Regions from separate parts of the Homo sapiens genome. Here region 2 is linked to region 1. The links come from fine-mapping of genetic effects on plasma protein levels. A gene starts in region 1. The other region holds a variant in brackets. All regions are shown on one strand. Distances are from middle to middle.

The links. PIP is the posterior inclusion probability: the model's chance that the variant is causal. The UK Biobank Pharma Proteomics Project read protein levels with antibody pairs (Olink). The fine-mapping took linkage between variants from a reference panel, not from the people measured, so its PIPs are less certain.
Region 2: its variant is fine-mapped to the plasma level of the CDHR1 protein (UK Biobank, PIP above 0.99).

What each region holds. Positions count from the first base shown.
Region 1 is chr10:84,191,843-84,197,173 of GRCh38, reverse strand. CDHR1 (cadherin related family member 1) reads right to left here and starts at 2,637. Exons shown (of 17, transcript NM_033100.4): 1 at 2,359-2,637; 2 at 1,585-1,680; 3 at 524-669. The coding sequence starts at 2,413. RefSeq lists silencers at 2,422-2,541, 2,612-2,741.
Region 2 is chr10:84,723,919-84,729,293 of GRCh38, reverse strand. No RefSeq gene overlaps it. Among named protein-coding and RNA genes, the nearest start is that of CCSER2, 400 kb to the right of the region's middle. The variant T/C (reference allele first, on the strand shown) is at 2,570.

The DNA of each region.
Region 1 (5,331 bases):
CAGCATCCCCACAGCTGAGGTCCAGTTAGCCACACACCAGGCTGCTATGCGGTCTGAAAAAGCCCATGCCCTGTTGCCTGCAAGTTCTCAAGTGTGTAGAGTGGAGGAGCTCTGCCAAACTCAGACTCACTGCCAACCACCCTTTCCAGCCTTGACCTGCTCTGAGTTCCTGTGCCTCTCCCAGGACAGGCTTGAAAAATCACTTTGTGAGGTTTCTTTCAGAAACCTCAAAGTGCAAACGGATTTATTTTTAATGGAACATGCTTAAAAGATTAGCAGGGCTGGCAGGTGCTCGTTAAAGGAGCCCACTCTTCGCTCTGTGTGAAGGAGGAGCATGAAAGTAAAGCCCACTCTGCTGATGGGAAGTGGCCCAGAGATCTCACAGAGTGGATGTGCCTGGGGTGTGCCCCCTCATCCCCTACTCTGTGGAGAGGTTCTAACCAATGTGCTCCAGGGGAACTTCAGCCCACCGAGGTCTGTCTACAGGCAGTGGCCCCGCAGCACTCCCCACACCTCCCCATACCTCTCTGTCCAGCTCTTCAACCAGGGTGATGTTTCCAAAAGTGGGGTCAACAGAAAAGACGCTTCTAGTGCTGGGGTCAAAGCTGATGTGGTAGGAGATGGGGTCTCCCTCAGGGTCTGTCCCATTCAGGGTGTATACGTGAGAGCCTGGAAGGAAACACAGTGGAGAGACATAGAATCTGAGACCCAACTTTTCCTAAAAGTGGCAGATGCTCAGGACCAACGATTCAGCTGTTTATAAAGTGACTATTCAACTCAGTGCCAAAGGTACTGCCCTGAACTTGGTGCTCATTGCTGGCCTCACCCCTGCTGGCTGCTTCCCTCTTTGTATGTTTATTCTTCACAGCGGGTGGTTGTGATGATCAGCCACTTTCCAGATTGTAATCTATAACACGGGTTACAGAGCAGGTGCAGGTCTGCCGTGCCTAACTGTAGTGCCTATGTTCTGCTCAGCCTGGTAATAACTCCTCTCTCAGGATCCAAGATTGAGGGGCTCCTGGGTACAGGGAAGGGGAAATGGGAGCAGCCATTAAGGCAGGAGGGGTGACCCACAGTGCACCACTGTCCCCGATGCCTGGACCTGGTTCTGCAGGGATTTCTGAGCCAGGTGCCTACTTTGCTCTGCTCTCCCTTTTCCCCGGGTTCCCACTACCCACAAAGTGAGGGAGAAGGAGTGTGAAATCTCCCCTTTCTCCTCCCCTCTCTCTGCATATCTCAGCAAGTTGGATGTTCTTAGGCCGTTTTAAAGCCTAGAGACCTGGGGCTCAGGGAGGTAAATACATTTGTTCAAGGTCACACAGCCATAAGGGGCAGCTGTAGCTGCCTGCCTCGCGGGGCGACCCTGTCTGTGGGGGGGAGCCCTGGTCTCCAGGACTGGCCAGACTTAAGTCGCCATGGCAGCAATGACCTTCTTTCCTGCCATTGCCCAGGGGAATTCGGAGAGCAAACAAGGAGCCCCCGGGCGCGCGCAGCAACTTGGGTGGTGCCTGGGGCACTTTGTGTTCTAAGTCTGCCTGCACCCCTCAGGGAGACCTATCGGGAGCAGGTGCCAGGGCTACTCACCTACAGGGGTGTCCTCTGGGAGGCTGAACAGAGCCATGTTTCCGTTGGTGCTGCCGACCCCGTTGTCGAAGAAGTGCGGGGCGAAGTTGGCCTGAGCTGGAAAAAGAACACAGAACAGACGGACACCCAGGCAAAGGACACCCAGACACCAGGAGGGAGCTTCGCACCAGCGCGGTCCCGCGTCAGGCCCAGCTACTGGGCAGGAGGGCGCTCCGCCTCCCCAACCCAAGTGCACCGAGGGACCCCACTGGGGCGCCGCCCAGAGGATGCCCCTGACCCCCACTCCGCCCCCGGTGGGCTCGGGCTTGTCAGGGACACGTAGCATGTGGGCGCTTAGAACCCAGGTAGCAATCCAACCCCTCCTTCATCAATGGGCAGATTGCACCCGCGCTCGGAGAGGGGCAGTGCCCCAGCCCAGCCAAGGTCAAGCCGCGAGTCAGGGCACTATCTCCTGCCCCACGCAGCATCGGAGCTGCCACCAAGCCTACAGCTCTGGTTCCCAGCAAGCGGAGAGCAGCGGGGGTCCGGGCGCCAAACCCTGGGGCCCTAGGATGCCAGCTCTGGAGAAGCGCCCCGGAGCTCCCCACTACTCCGCTACCCCACTCCCCACTACCGAATGGGCCAGGAAGATGGAAGGACTTCTCCGCTCCCGTCCACCAGCCCGAGTCCCACTCTGGAAGTGGTCCAGGACCATGTCCCTCTGGCCACCTGGGTGACGCCAGCGCCCATCTCCCTCGCCATCCACGCGGCCAGCGCGGCCCAGCGGCCACTCACCCAAGCAGAGGCGCAGCAGCCCCAGGGCCAGGGCGGCCCACCGGCAGCGCCTCATGTCTCCGCCGGCGCGGAGTGTCGCCTGCCGCCGCCGAGACCGGGCGCAGGGGCACGGAGCATGCCCTGGGCCCGCGGGGAGGGCAGAGACCACAATGGGGGTAGCGGCGACTGCAGCCGCGGCGGGAGGGGGCACGGGGCGGGAGCGGCGGGTGGCGTGAGGGCGCTAAGAGGATGACACGGCTCGGATCTGCTCCTGCCGGCCGCCTGACGAGACCAATTAGCGGCGCAGAGCGGAGCGACAGGCTCCCAGCCGCGGGCGGGGGCAGGAGGGCGTGACAAGAGGACTCCCCGCCCGCCACGCCCCCTTTGCCGGCGGCCCCCAGTCCTGGACAGGAGGACACCATGGGGGACAGGAGTGTCTTTCCCCCAAGTTGTCCTGAGGCTTTCCCAGGGTACTTAAGTCCTGGTGGGGCTTGGGCTTCGCAGTTTTCTTTTCTCATCAACTTCCTCTGTGACTTTCAGGGGCTTAGCTGTCTTCTCTGAGCTAAGCATTCCAGAAGAAAAGTTAGTGGAGCGGCCGAGAGGGCCTTGCCTTAGCAGTCTAAGCAGGTTCTATAAGCCGCGTGAGACCAAAGGCAAAGAGAAAGGGTGATGGATGGGCAGCAGATGGTAAGGGGTTATCAGGACCCCCTCTCTGTGATCTCAACCCATTCCTGCCCTGTTCCCCAGGCTGGACCACCTCTCCCAAAGGGTCTGATCTGTGTGGTGGGCAGCAGGGAGGACCCTCAGGTGTCCACCAGGGTGAGAGGCAGTTCTGCTCCCCATTCCCAGTCAGTGCCCAGTCTGGGACCATGAAGGGGCAGCTGACCCACTCTTCAAACCTTCCAAGGAAGAGTGAAGGGCCTGAAGGCAGAGTTAAGCCCCATCTTAGGACAGACTTGCACAGAGCTGGCCAAGATAGATCTGAACTGCCCGAGAGGCACGAGATCTCATTCCTAGAGGGTATTTACACAAAGCAAGGCACTGCTATTGGGGTCCTGGATGCTGATAACTTGAAGACACAGGTAAGCCCAGGAACCTTTTTGGCTGCTGGTAAAGCTCCTTGGGCTTCCTCGTTCTCCTGCTCTGACACTGGAGGGTGCTTGGAAATGCAGCCTGTTTTCCTTTTCCTGGTTGGGCCATTTATGGGGGTACAGGTCACTTCAAGCCCAAGCCAGGCCACTTCCCAGGATGCCCTTGGGTGGATGTGTTCTCAGATAGAGGAGATCCCTCCTCTGTGTGCTCCTGGGAGAGGTCTCCACAGCTGAGGACTCAGCATTCCCCCCCTCCCCCTGCCAGGGGCCTTTGAGGGAACAGAGCACCCCCCATCCCTTGGTCTAGCCCTACATGATCTACTGTGAGCAAGGGTCAGGGATTTGCAGAGAAGAAGGAAGATGAATCAATGGTTTTAGAATGTGCAGCAGTTTTCAGGCCTAATTGGCCGAAACCCTTGTTGAGTCTCCTTAGGCTTGGCTCTTTTGCTGAAAAGACACACTTTAAATTGCACAGATGTTCTGAATCTGCCTCCCAAAGTGCTGGGACAAAGCTAAGGCAAGTATTCTGCAAGTCCCATATAGGGATGTGGAGACTGAGTCTTGCCGTGGATTTCCCAGGAGCCAGAGGCAGAGCCAAGGTTTCCTGGAGTAGATGTCTTGGTGGGCCGAGAAAAGCCAGCTCTCCCTGGGTCCTGTTAGCCCTGCTCCTCACCAATCTAGGGCCGTTGATTTCTCTCTCCTCAGTTCCCTCAGTCAACAGCCATGCACTGGAGAGGGAAGGGGAAGGAGTAGCCTACATGCCATGTGCTGTATGTGTGCTTATGTATATTTGCCCATATTATCTTATTTGACCTGCACTGCTCTCCCAATGTGATTTTCTCTGCTTTGCAGAGGAGGGAGATTTCCTCATTGGCTGTGTACGACCAAGCAAGTGACTTATTCTCTCTGAGGTGCAGAGCTTGGATTCACATACAGTTTGGGTTGGCTCCAAAGAAGGTTCAAACTCTTTTTTTTTTTGAGCTGGAGTCTCACTCGGTCACCCAGGCTGGAGTGCAATGGCGGATCTCAGCTCACTGCAACCTCTGTCTCCTAGGTTCAAGTGATTCTCCTGCCTCAGCCTTTCAAATATTGGCATTACAGGTGCACGCCACCATGCCCAGCAAATTTTTTTTCTTTTTTTTTTTTTTGGTAGAGACGGGGTTTCACCATGTTGGCCAGGCTAGTCTTGAACTCCTGACCTCAGGTGATCCACCCATCTTGGCCTCCCAAAGTGCTGGGATTACAGGCATGAGCCACTGTGCCCGCCTGGTTCAAACCCTTTTCATGGCAGAAGAAGATGATCTTGAATCTACTGAAGCTTCAGCTTCTAGGCCTCTCACTCACACATCACACATTCCTTCCAGAGCCCCAGTTTTGTATTTTACTTTGTATTTTCTTCTTCTTTCTTTTTAGAGATAGGGTGTTATTATGTTGCCCAGGCTGGCCCTGAACTCTAGGGATCAAAAGACTCTCCTGCCTCAGCCTCCTGAGCAGCTGAGAATACAGGCAGCACCATTACATCTGACTTCTATTCTGATGTAGAAGGGTCTGAGAAAGACCCTCCACACCCCCCACTCCAACTCCTGCTGCTTCCTTCAGCTGTTTTAGGTTCAGATCTGCTAGTGTAACCAGCTGCCCAAATTTGCCTGGGACTGAGGGGTTTCCAGGGATGCAGGACTTTCAATGCTAAAACCAGCAAAGCCTAAGGTAACCTGGTATTTGGCGGTCACCCTAGATACAACCCTGTCCTCAAATCACCTAAGGACCTGGGAAAACAGCAGCTCTTTATGGTGGTTCTCACCATGGACCCTGATCTTGACCTTGCAGTATGGAAGGTCTTGGCTTGTCAAGGCTCAGTAGGACTCATCTGCCATGAGACATGGGACCTGACCCTCACTTACAG
Region 2 (5,375 bases), 530 kb before region 1:
ATTTAAAGTTAATATTGTTATGTGTGAATTTGATCCTGTCATTATGATGTTCGTGGATTATTTTGCCTGTTAGTTGATACAGTTTCTTCCTAGCATCATTGGTCTTTACAATTTGGCATGTTTTTGCAGTGGCTGGTACCAGTTGTTCCTTTCCATGTTTAGTGCTTCATTCAGGAGCTCTTGTAAGGCAGGCCTGGTGGTGACAAAATCTCTCAGCATTTGCTTGTCTGTAAAGGATTTTATTTCTCCTTCACTTGTGAAGCTTAGTTTGGCTGGATATGAAATTCTGGGTTGAAAATTCTTTTCTTTAAGAATGTTGAATATTGGCCCCCACTCTCTTCTGGCTTGTAGAGTTTCTGCAGAGAGATCCACTGTTAGTCTGATGGGCTTCCCTTTGTGGGTAACCCGACCTTTCTCTCTGGCTGCCCTTAACATTTTTTCCTTCATCTGGGTGAATCTGACAATTATGTGTCTTGGAGTTGCTCTTCTCGAGGAGTATCGTTGTAGTGTTCTCTGTATTTCCTGAATTTGATTGTTTGCCTGCCTTGCTAGGTTGGGGAAGTTCCCCTGGATAATATCCTGCAGAGTGTTTTCCAGCTTGGTTCCATTCTCCCCATCTCTTTCAGGTATACCAATCAAACATAGATTTGGTCTTTTCACATAGTCCCATATTTCTTGGAGGCTTTGTTTGTTTCTTTTTACTCTTTTTTCTGTAAACTTCTCTTCTCACTTTATTTCATTAATTTGATCTTCAATCACCCTTCGATTCACCCTTTCTTGCACTTGATCTAATCAGCCATTGAAGCTTGTGCATGTGTCACATAGTTCTCATGCCATGGTTTTCAGCTCCATCAGGTCATTTAAGGTCTTCTCTACACTGTTTATTCTAGTTAGCCATTCGTCTAATCTTTTTTCAAGGTTTTTAGCTTCGTTGCAATGGTTTGAACATCCTCCTTTAGTTTGGAGAAGTTTGTTATTACTGACCTTCTGAAACCTACTTCTGTCAGCTTATCAAAGTCATTCTTCATCCAGCTTTGTTCCATTGCTGGCAAGGAGCTGCGATCCTTTGGAGGCAAAGAGGTGCTCTAGTTTTTAGAATTTTTAGCTTTTCTGCTCTGGTTTCTCCCCATCTTTGTGGTTATATCTACCTTTGGTCTTTGATGCTGTTGACCTACAGAAGGGGTTTTAGTATAGATGTTCTTTTTATTGATGTTGATGCTATTCCTTTCTGTTTGTTAGTTTTCCTTCTAACAGTCTGGTCCCTCAGCTGCAGGTCTTTTGGAGTTTGCTGGAGGTCCACTCCAGACCCTTTTTGCTTGGGTATCACTAGCGGAGGCTTCAGAACAGCAAATATTGCAGAACAACAAATATTGCTGCCTGATCCTTCCTCTGGAAGCTTTGTCCCAGAGGGTCACCTGCCCGTATGAGGTGTCAGTCGGCCCCTACTGGGAGGTGTCTCCCAGTTAGGCTACACATGGGTCAGATACCCACTTGAGGAGACAGTCTGTCCATTCTCAGAGCTCAAACATCGTGCTGGGAGAACCACTGCTCTCTTCAGGGTTGTCATCAGGGACTTTTAAGTCTGCAGAAGTTTCTGCTGTCTTTTGTTCTGCTATGCCCTTCCCCAAGAGGTGGAGTCTACGGAGGGCCTTGCTGAGCTGCGGTGGGCTCCACCCAGTTTCAGCTTCCTTGGCTACTTTGTTTACCTACTCAAGCCTCAGCAATAGCGGATACCCCTCCCCCTGCCAGGCTGCTGCCTCACAGGTTAATCTCAGACTGCTGCGCTAGCAGTGAGCAAGGCTCCATGGGCATGGGACCCACCAAGCCAGTTGCAGGATATCATCTCCTGGTGTGCCATTTGCTAAGACTGTTGGAAAAGCACAGTATTAGGGTGGAAGTGTCCCGATTTTCCAGGTACAGTCTGTCACGGCTTCCCTTGGCTAGGAAAGGAAAATCCCCTGACCCCTGTGCTTCCCAGATGAGGCAATGCCCCGCCCTGCTGCAACTCGCCCTCCATGGGCTGCACCCACTGTCCAACCAGTCCCAATGAGATGAATCAGGTACCTCAGCTGGAAATGCAGAAATCACTGTCTCCTGCGTCAATCACGCTGGGAGCTGCAGTTCCTATTCGGGCTTCTTGGAAGGGGCTTTTTTCTCTCCTGCCTAATTTAAAAATTGACAAATGATCTGAACAGGCATTTCAACAAAGATGATATACAGATGGCAAATAAGTATATAAAAAGATGTACAACATCCTATATGATTAGGTAATTGCAATGAGATACTACTACACACCTATTAAGATGGCTAAAATTCAAAAAAAAAAACAAAAAACCAACACAATACCAAATGATAGTACCAATGTGGAGCAATAGGAACAGAAACTTCTCATTCATTTGATGGGAATTCAAAATGGTATAATCACACTGGAAGACAGTTTGGCAGTGTCTTACAAAGCTAAAAGACTTACCGTACAATTTAATCTTTGCACTCCAAGGTATTTCCCCTAATGAGTTGAAAACTTATGTCCACACAAAAACCTGCACGTGAACATTTATAGTAGCTTTAT[T/C]CATAATTTTCAAAATCTAGAAGTAATCAAATGGACCTTAAAAAGATGAATGGGATATATACACATATTATATATCCATGGTAATTAAAAATTAATATTTTTCAAACATGAATGGATAAACAAACTATTATACATTCATACAATAGAATCTGATTCAATAATAAAAATGAACTATCAAATCACAAAATGGCATGGAGGAATCTTAAATGCATATTGCTTAGTGAAAGAATCAGTCTGAAAAGACTATATATTATACATTTCCAACTATATGGCATTCTGGAAAAGGCAAAACCTATAGGCACTGAGAAGATCAGTAAATACCAGGGATTGTCGAAAAGAGGGAGAGGGATGAATAGGTAGAGCACAGGGAATTTTTAGGACTCTGAAACTATCCTGTATGACACTGTCATGGTGGATGCATGACATTACGTATTTGTCAAAACCTATAGAATGTACAACACAAAGTGAACCCTAATATAACCCATAGGCTTTATTTAAGAATAATGTATCAATATTGGCTAATCATTTGTAACAGATGTATCACTGTAATGCAAGATGCTAATACCAGGGGAAACTGTGAGGTGGGATGGGAGTATATGGAACCTCTTTGTATTATTTGCTCAATTTTCTATATACTTAAAAACTGCTTTGAAAAAAATTCTATTAATTAAAAAAGAAAAACATAGACAGTGAGAAAATACTTGCAAATTAGAGATTTGATAAAGAACTGAATCTAGAAAACATAAGGAACTCTCAAAACTCAATAGTAAGAAATTAAATAGCACAGTAAAAAGGGAGGAGGTATTTAAACAGATAAGTCACTAAAATAGATATTCAAATGGCAAATGAAAATATGAAAGGATGCTCAACATTATTCATCATTAGAAAAATTTGAATTAAAGCAACAATAACATCCCACTACACAACCCATTAGGATGGCTAATATTTACCAGAAAGAAAATGACAATACCAAATTCTGGGAAGAATATAAAGCAACTAGAACACATATGCACCATTAGTGGAAATCCAAAATGACACAGCCACTTTAGAAAATGGTTTGGCCATTTCTTTTAAAATGAAACACATTTGATAAACAGCCTTGCAATTTCATCCTTAGATATTTACCCAAGAGAAATGAAAACATATATTCATAGAAAAACTGGTAACAAGGGTTTATAGTGGCTTCATTCATAATCACCAAAACCAGGAAATGCCCAAAAGTCTTTAAAGAGGAAAATGCACAAACAAACAGTGGTTCATTATATAATGGAATGCATCAATTTAATGGAATACAATGCCTACTAAAAAGGATTCATCTATGTCTGATAAACATGACATAGATGAATCTCAAATGTATTATGCTACCTGATTAAAAAAACAAGCTCAAAAGATTATATACAGAGTGATTCCATTTATTACCCTTTTTAAAGTCAAAAATACCTACAGAAAACAGATCGCTGATTGTCAGGATATGGAGGTATGGGGAGAAATTGACTATGAGGTGACAGAAATGTTCTTTATATTGATTTTATTGGGCACAGGATAACTTCTTGAGGTAATAAAAATGTTCCTTATCTTGGTTTTATTGGCGGCTACACAACTGCATGCATTTTTCAAAACTCTTAGAAGTTTAGAAGGAAGAATTTGAATTTAATGTAGACACTTTCCCTTAGTAAATCTGATTTTAAAATATATGCTTAGACAAATCCTGAAGGAGACCACATCTGCTCAACTGGATGGGAAGTCCTCTCTTTACAGGCATTCTCCTGTAGACACACCTCCATGTCTACCATTGTCCACCTTTTGTGCATTGCACTTTGACTTTTCCATACATGTCCAGAGAGCAGCTCCTTCAGGGCTCTAGTGAGCCTCTCTTCCTTAGAAGAAACTTAGGAGAGGAAAGAGAGTGAGATGAACCACAGGCTTCATTGCTAGAGGTGGTATTCAGGTTGCAATTGGTATTCATCATCTCCCTTCTGTACTATCCATTCTAAATTCTTTCTGCCCTCAATGTTGAGGTGATAACTTTGCAGATCAGAATCAATTACAAAACAAGGACTCCCTTCTTGCCTGCTGATTTCTGGACACAGTTAACCCAGTGGGTCCATACAGCGTCCATAAATTTTAGTTCAATTGTACCCTTGCTGGTGAACATGTATCTTTCTGGGGGACAGAGGCCTCTAACTCTGCAAAGCTCAGAGCTGCACATAGAAATCACAAATTCCTCCACTGAGACATTAGCAATGGTGTCATGTAGGGCCTCTCCTGCTTCCACCCCTTGTTTCTCTGACTTATCTGTTGTTCCTGTTGAGGACACAGCATTGCATAAAATTCTCTGTTTCAATGCATGTACCACTTTCTGAAGAATGGTACTCCATCTTTGCAGAGTATTTTTCTTGAACAGTGATTCATCTGTGCCTTCAGCAGGCCATTCCAACAATCTATCAGGATGAAAGCTTCTGAGTGATGATGTATCCAGTACAACTGGTAGATCCCAAGGTCAGTGGTCTACTCCCACACCTCCTTGACTAGAAAGTTGGTTCCCTGGTCAAATGCTGTGTTATATGAAATTCTATCGATAATTATCTAAGGTTTGCGAGTTGGAAAGACGATCCTTAGATATCCACTCTTGAGAGGATAAAACTCCAGCTCTTCCAGAATAGAAGGGAACAATATAGTCAACTTACCACCAAGTGGAAAATGAATCTCTTCAAAGAATACCATCATCCCAGGAGCAGAGCATAGGTTCTCTTGCTGGCAGGTAGGACATCCAGAGGAGAGTTTCTTGACTGGCCATTTTAAATCT